2 linked regions of the Homo sapiens genome follow. The protein of the gene in region 2 interacts with the protein of the main gene of each other region in a biochemical or structural test. Each region holds a gene or a part of one and is shown on either strand. Other genes may lie near its edges.

Region 1 (3,819 bases), on a different chromosome or scaffold from region 2:
TTCCCTTCCACATCACCAGAACTCAGATATGTGCCCTTGGGCTTCACTGGGGAGGCCCAATGAACTGGGCTTGTGGTACCTGGTTCATCTTTCCAAGGTCAAGAATGTTTCAACTTCAAATACGAGTGTGGGACAAGGGGAAATCCTGAACATAAATGCCACACTGCAATGACTTGCAATTTGTTTTTTCTCAGTTTTTCTCTCAGCAACATTCTGTCTAAAGCACTTTCCCTCTGAATAGTCTACCTCTAACCATCAAAGAGCTGCTAAAGACAAGAATGCATAATTAAGTTAGACTAGGACCTGAAGTGGTCTCAAGTTTGATGCTCTACACCCTTGAAATTCCAGCCCACTAGAAGCCCAAGAAGGTCTCTGCACATCAATTTCACATGCTCCCACAAGAGACCAGATGTCCTCTCTCTGATTTGGGAGGACCCACCTGCCTTGGGCAACTGCTAGCTTTGACCTTTGGGCTGCTATTCTGGAAGCAAGTGAGAGAAGATGGGGTAGTGCAGGTAACAGACTGGTGAGTGGAAAGTATAATAAAAGGAGGGCCACGTGAACTGAACCAACGCACAGCCCTGCCCCTGGAGAGCTTAAAGAAAAGATGCAAGGACTCTACTCACTGCAGTGAATCAACTGTAAGCACAAGTTGGGATGGCAGAACTGAAATGGTTACAGCTAGTCATTCCTATCTATTGCAATGTATTTTCACAAAGGGGTACATAAATCATAAAAAATGTTTCAGACCTCACAAAGCTGTACATAAATCCTTAAAAAAAGTTTCAAACTTCATAAAAATAATATCCTAAGTAACAAATATTCCCTACCCTTAAGTTTTCCAAAGCTAAGTACAACCCCAGTGTGGCTGGGTGCTGACTGTAACACCCAAGGTGGGAGGAAGGGCCAAGCTCTCGCAACTGTCAGCAAAGGTGTGTGAGGGTCAATGGCTGCACCACCAAGAAACAGAGTGGAGACAATTAGAGGAAGCAAGGGCTAAGCAGAAAAGAGTTCACAGGAGACCAGGAGACTGAGGCCAGTGTGACCCTAAGCCAGGCCAAAGAAATGGTGATGCAGGAAAACTAAGGAAGTGCGCCCAAGTGAGGCAAGCAACACCAAAAAGGAACTTTTCTCAAATACACAGATGGTCTCCAACTTATCATGGTCTGACTTGCAATTTTTCAACTTTGTGATGGGTTTATCAGGGCATAACCCCATTATAAACTGAGGAGCCTCTGGACTTAACTATGGTTTGACTTACAATATTTTGACTTTAAGATAGGTTTTTCAGTGTATTTAATGCATTTTTGACTAACAATATTTTCAATTTACGATGGGTTTGTCGGGATGTAACCCTGTTGTAAATCAAGGAGCAACTGTATACGTATGGATGTGTGTGTCTATGTATGTGTGTTTTTTTAAATGCAATAGAATGGGATGTTAAAGGAAAACAGCAGAAAGATTAAACATACAAAAGAAACCCAAAATTTCTCTATTGTAATTATAAGTATTTGCTTCACATCTTATAAGCACTTTTTAAAATACTTCCTAAATTAAGTGCCCCTAAATGATGACTTTTTCAAAAATGCAATACTGAATGTTATTCTGAATCACCTTATTATACTTCTGTCGTTTTACAGAATCTAGTTTCCTGTTGATGTCTCTGCTGGTGGCAGCTTGAGGGCTAAGCTGTTCAATAATTTTATTGATTTGCCTTAGGGATGTCGTACATGACCTGAAAAATAAGATAAATTGTCTATTTTGCACTCTGATAACATTTTTATAGCATAATATAAAGAGAAAAATGCTAAAAACATGTCCCTTTTACTTCTTATTAACTAAAAGATAAAGGAAACTAAACCAGAATACATACCCTTATTGGCCACAAATAAAACTTGTAGGATCATTAGAGGTTTAAGATGACTGCTAGTGTTTTCTTTTATCTAGCTGATTTAGATCAGCTCATTCCCATTTGTAAGCTGCTTCAGTCATTCTACAAGCATTATTTAAGTGCCTACTTTATTCAACACACTATGCTAGAACAATGTGCAATAAGTTGTCCTTTTACATGAAAAAATGCATACATGGGTTTTTTAAGCCCGTTACGGAAGCCTTCCAAAGTCTGGAAGCATCCTAAATATGCTTAAACATTTTTTTATATAAATCACACATCTGCGACAATATTTTTCTTCTACATAAATGGAAGATTCACTTACTACAGCACTAAACTTTGTGGTGCAAAGAAAACAAATCAATTTAAAATAAATTACTCCTAAAATAGACACCATAGAATTGTAGCTTCCAATTTTCAAAACACAAATTCAATCTTCTTGATGATTGTGTAATTTGCTGTTTGTATCCTCTGTGGATTACAGGATAAACAATGCGTATTACTGGCTGAGACACCACATGCCACCAGCCATCTAGCATCACTCTGCATGGAGACCCCACAACTCTCCTCTGTCACCTCTGGAGAAAGAGGACACATTTCCAAGATCAAATGTAAAAGTATCATTACAAAGAGTTGAGGTCCTCAACACTCAGACTATAACCATGAACGAGCACCTGCTCCTGAGGAGGCCAAAAGAACACACCAGGGAATGGTTAGCAGAAAACATGTCTTTGAAGTACCAACAACCACATTCATGACAGCGCCACACTCCACCCTCCCCAGCTATCCTCTGTGACACTGCTCCATCCTCCATCCCGTTCAGCCCTCGCCTTCTTTCTTGCTTACCTGACACTGCCCAGAACACTGCCCAACGGGGGCCAAGCAGCAATGATAAGTGAGCTCAACCCCTCCCACTTCCCCTCTCCTGTCCTCACCTCCTACCCTTGCTCAGGTCTACAGCCTCCCCTTCTTCCCCATTAACGTGCTATGCTCAAAACAGCTCAAGTCTTCTCCCTCTCTAAGACACAAATAAAATCTCCATTTCCAGAGTCAGAACAAGGATGGAAGAAAAGAAAACCGGGGAGTCTTTATTATTTCTAAAAATGCAAATCTGAAAAATTGCCCAAGGACTGAACACTAAGTTTGGGGACAGTAAGCTAGAAAGAAGCTACCGCACAGAGAAAAATGTGAAGGGGGCGCAATGTATTCCTGGCATCTCGAATAGGAAACACCTGAATTTAGGTGCACCTCTCCTGAGATCACTTTGTGCACATGCTGGTGAACAGCCCTTCTCTTCTGGACATTATGCATGCAACTGGCTTTCACGAGCTGGACAGAGACTCTAACTACCATGTACAATGCCACTCCTAAGGGGAAGGGCTGGGACTCAAAGATGAGGTTGAGGACTGCCCTTATTGACTCTGTCCTCCAAATAAAAGGTTCTACACATCTCCTAAACTTCTGGAATACTAGAGCTTTCCATTACCTGAATATCCCTGTCATGTTTTACCACCACTTTGAAAGGAAGAAGATGGGCTGCACTCACGTGAGGTCATCCAGGACCGACCGATACTCCTTCTCCACGTCAACGAGCTGGGAGGCACGGCTGGCCTCATGGATGGCATTGTCCACCTGCTGAAGCACTCCCTGTTCCAGCACGTCCTGGTCATAGACGTCCACACCCAAACCCTGCAGCTCAAGGGCCTGGGCGCTAGGCTCTACTGCCTGGATCTGATGTCGGTCGATGTGCAGCAGGGCTGGCCCTCTCCTCGGAGCTGCTGATGCGCACCCCACAGCAGAGGTGGACAGCCCGTCACCCACAGAACGAAAGGAGAGGTACTCCTCCACCTCCCCATCACCACCACTTTCTTGCTTGATTGCCATTTCTTCATTATTACTGACAGGTTGACTCTGTAAACAGTCTTGCT
Region 2 (3,819 bases):
GACATTCTCAGTAAGTTCCTGTTGAATTTATAAGACCATAAAAAAAAAAAAGAGCTCTCCCAACGTGGCCAATATTTTATTTCCAATAAAGAGGGAGGCAGTTGCTAATGGCAATATCAAGAGAATATATAAGTAGTCCCCTCCATTAAACCCACCTCAAAAGTTAGAAATGCACTCCCAAATGTTTACCTTCTCCTTTTTAATCTACTATATATTTGACAGGCATGATTTTATGCTACCTTTTTGAATCTCTGCGTATTTTTTTTAACTCAAGCCAATTCTGGGGACAAATTCCATGCATAAAAAATTAAAATAGCTATGCCAGGCACGGTGACTCATGCCTGTAATCCCAGCACTTCAGGAGGCTGAGGCGGGCGGACTACCTGAGGTCAGGAGTTTGAGACCAGCCTGACCAATATGGAGAAACCCCATCTCTACTAAAAATACAAAATTAGCCAGGTGTGGTGGCACATGCCTGTAATCCCAAATACTTGGGAGGCTGAGGCAGGAAAATCACTTGAACCCAGGAGGTGGAGGTTGTGGTAAGCCAAGATTGCACTATTGCACTCCGGCCTGGGCAACAAAAGCGAAAATCTGTCTCAAAAAAAATTTAAATAGCTTAAAAGAGAGAATATCCTATTTTTTAAAAAATAAGTCTTTAAGCCTTTTTTTTTTACCTTAAATACATATTTAGCAAATAAAAATGTATATAAAATCTTATTTCACAAATTTTAAAAACTGAAAATATTTCAAAGTGTGGTATATAAATAATGTAGTTTTCTGGGGCTTATAACTTATTGAGAAACCAAATTCTCTGACATAAAACATACATAATAAATGTTTGATGAAGTGTTTTTTCTAACAGTTAAGCTTAACCTACCTTGAGCGTACAAAGTCAGAACTGCCTGGATGGCTACATATACACCGGAAAACTGGTAAGTTTCAAACATTACCTGTAAATGCAGACAGAAAGAAAAAAACTGGTATTTAGAAAATTACATAATAAATAAATGTTTTCCTCATGGTCACAGAGTGAATTAATTGCCCAAAATAGAATCAAATGGACCTGAAATAGTCTTCCATTTTCATCAGCTCCTCTTATTTCTTATTGAAGTCCTGCTGCCACAGAGCTCCAAATCTGAAGACAGATTTCTAAGTCCCCAAGCATTTCATAAGCGTGACAAAGCAAAGATTTCTTAGTGTATTAGTTAATGACTAATTAGTGTGAAAGAAAGCTCTCTGTATTGAACAAGACTTTCTTAATTGATATCCCTTAAGGGAAATTCTTTTTTTTTTTTTTTTTTTTTGAGATGAAGTCTCACTCTGTTGCCCAAGCTGGAGTGCAGTGGCGCAATCTTGGCTCACTGCAACCTCCACCTCCAGGGTTCAACTGATTCTCCTGCCTCAGCCTCCTGAGTAGCTGGGACTACAGGCATGCACCACCATGCCTGGCTAATTTTTGTATTTTTAGTACAGACAGGGTTTCACTATGTTGGCCAGGCTAGTCTCGAACTCCTGACCTCATGATCCACCCACCTCGGCCTCCCAAAGTGCTGGGATTACAGGTGTCAGCCACCACATCCAGCCAGGGAAATATCTTTTTTTTTTCTTTTTTTGAGACGGAGTCTTGCTCTGTCGCCCAGGCTGGAGTGCAGTGGTGCCATCTCAGCTCACTGCAACCTCCACCTCCCTGGTTCACGCCATTCTCCTGCCTCAGCCTCCCGAGTAGCTGGGACTACAGGCGTACACCACCACACCCGGCTAATTTTTAGTATTTTTAGTAGAGACAGGGTTTCACCGTGTTAGCCAGGATGGTCTCCATCTCCTGACCTCATGATCCGCCTGCCTCGGCCTCCCAAAGTGCTGGGATTACAGGCGTGAGCCACCGCACCCGGCCGGGAAATATCTTTTAATTCGAAGACAAAATATAGAAATTGCTTTACAGAGCCTCGTACCCCCTCCCTCAATCTGGGCCAAGAGTGTAGCTCTGTCTACCCTGAGCAGCTTAAAAATTAAAAGAAAGAAAGAAAGAAAAAATAAAAAACCCAGTAAAATGCCACGGCAAAGACAAAAATCAATGGTTAATTCCTGATTGCTGGAAGATACAGAAATGGCTTAGCTGCTGAGCCCAGTCCCTACTTGAATCAAGACTGTAATTACAACCTCCAAATGAACTACCCTGGAAGGAGGAGTTCTTTCCTTTTTGCCCTCACTGGTCACACACATGTTCATTCTCTGTAGCCCAGGTCAGCTGGGAACATCCTGCATGATTTTTTTTTTGGTGATCTTGACTGAGCACCCCTTGACTGGTAGGGTTGCCTATCACTCTGAATATCTAAATATTTAGAAATTTTACAACTGACCACAATGAAAATTACACAGAATTTAAATTCTACAACTCTGAAACACATACTCATCAATTAAGCAATTAGATAGTCTGAATAGTATTTTATTCCATCATCCTTTATTCCACCTCCACAGGGATGAAAATGGAAGAATGATCATATATATGCACATACCAATGTGAAAGCATGTTAATGAGATTAAGGTAGGACACTATCAGTCATAGACATATTTGTAGTCATAAACAAATAAGAATATTAAAATATAAGCCATAAGAAATCATATGGATTCTTTAAAACCATGATCTTAGATTTTCAAAACACTTAATACAAAAACTGAGTTTTAATACAGGCTTTAAAAATACTAACAACATTTTCTTCTAAACCCTTTCAAAAATTTCCATCAACATTTAAACATATTCGTAAACAAAATATGTACATTAAACAGTAACTGGAAAGCTACAGAAGTTATTAAATTTCTACTTCATATATACAAAAATAAAAGAACCTTGAAAAATTACTTATTTAAACTATGAGGATCATAGCTCTCTTGCTCTCTCTTTCCTCTGTAACTGCTTATTTCATTATTTCATTAACTTTTTTTTTCTTTTTCTTTTTTCTTTTTGAGACAGAGTCTCGCTCTGTCGCTCAGGTTGGAGTGCAGTGGGGTGATCTCAGCTCACTGCAACCTCCACCTCCTGGGTTCAAGCAATTCTCCTGCCTCAGCCTCCTGCGTAGCTGGGATTACAGGCGTGCACCACTATGCCCAGCTAATTTTGTGTTTTTAGTAGAGACGGAGTTTTGCCATGTTGGCCAGGCTGGTCTCAAATTCCTAGTCTCAAGTGATCCACCCGCCTTGGCCTCCCAAAGTGCTGGGAGCCACCTAGCCCGGCCTCAATAACGTTTTCAATCTCCTTCTGCTGGCTCCTCCTATCTCTCTGGTCCTTGGCCTTTTCACCACTGTCTACCCTCTTCTTTGTTGAACCGTATCATTTATAGCCCTACCTTCAAAACAGACCTATAATCTGGTAATTTCTCACTATCTCTACTACTACTACTTCAATCCTAACCATCATTATCTTTTGCTTAAATGACTGAAAAAGTCTCCAACTCTTCTATCTTTGCCTCCTTGTGGGATACTCACAACACAAGAGAAATCTAAATCTGAGCATCTCCTTTTCCTGTAACAGCCCCATATTTCACCCACAGTAAAAGCCCAATTCCCTTTTTTTCTTTTTGAGACTGAGTCTCACCCTGTCGCCCAGGCTGGAATGCAGTGGTGTAATCTCGGCTCACTGCAGCATCTGCCTCCTGGGTTCAAGCGATTCTCCTGCCCCAGCCTCCCAAGTAGCTGGGATTACAGGCACGCACCACTATGCCCAGTTAATTTTTGTATTTTTAGTAGAGATGGCGTTTCACTATGTTGGTCAGGCTGGTCTCGAACTCTTGACCTCGTGATCCGCCCACCTCGGCCTCC

Evidence for each region.
Region 1: the proteins of ACTR2 (region 2) and ERCC6 form a complex in vitro, tested with the Homo sapiens proteins (one large-scale study listed by BioGRID).

Annotation. Positions count from the first base shown.
Region 1 is NC_000010.11:49,529,106-49,532,924, forward strand, and holds part of ERCC6 (DNA excision repair protein ERCC-6), read right to left. Parts: coding exon 3,438-3,819; intron 1,736-3,437; coding exon 1,615-1,735; intron 1-1,614. UniProt on the Homo sapiens protein: Involved in repair of DNA damage following UV irradiation, acting either in the absence of ERCC6 or synergistically with ERCC6. Involved in the regulation of gene expression.
Region 2 is NC_000002.12:65,248,161-65,251,979, reverse strand, and holds part of ACTR2 (actin-related protein 2), read right to left. Parts: intron 954-3,819; coding exon 881-953; intron 1-880. UniProt on the Homo sapiens protein: ATP-binding component of the Arp2/3 complex, a multiprotein complex that mediates actin polymerization upon stimulation by nucleation-promoting factor (NPF).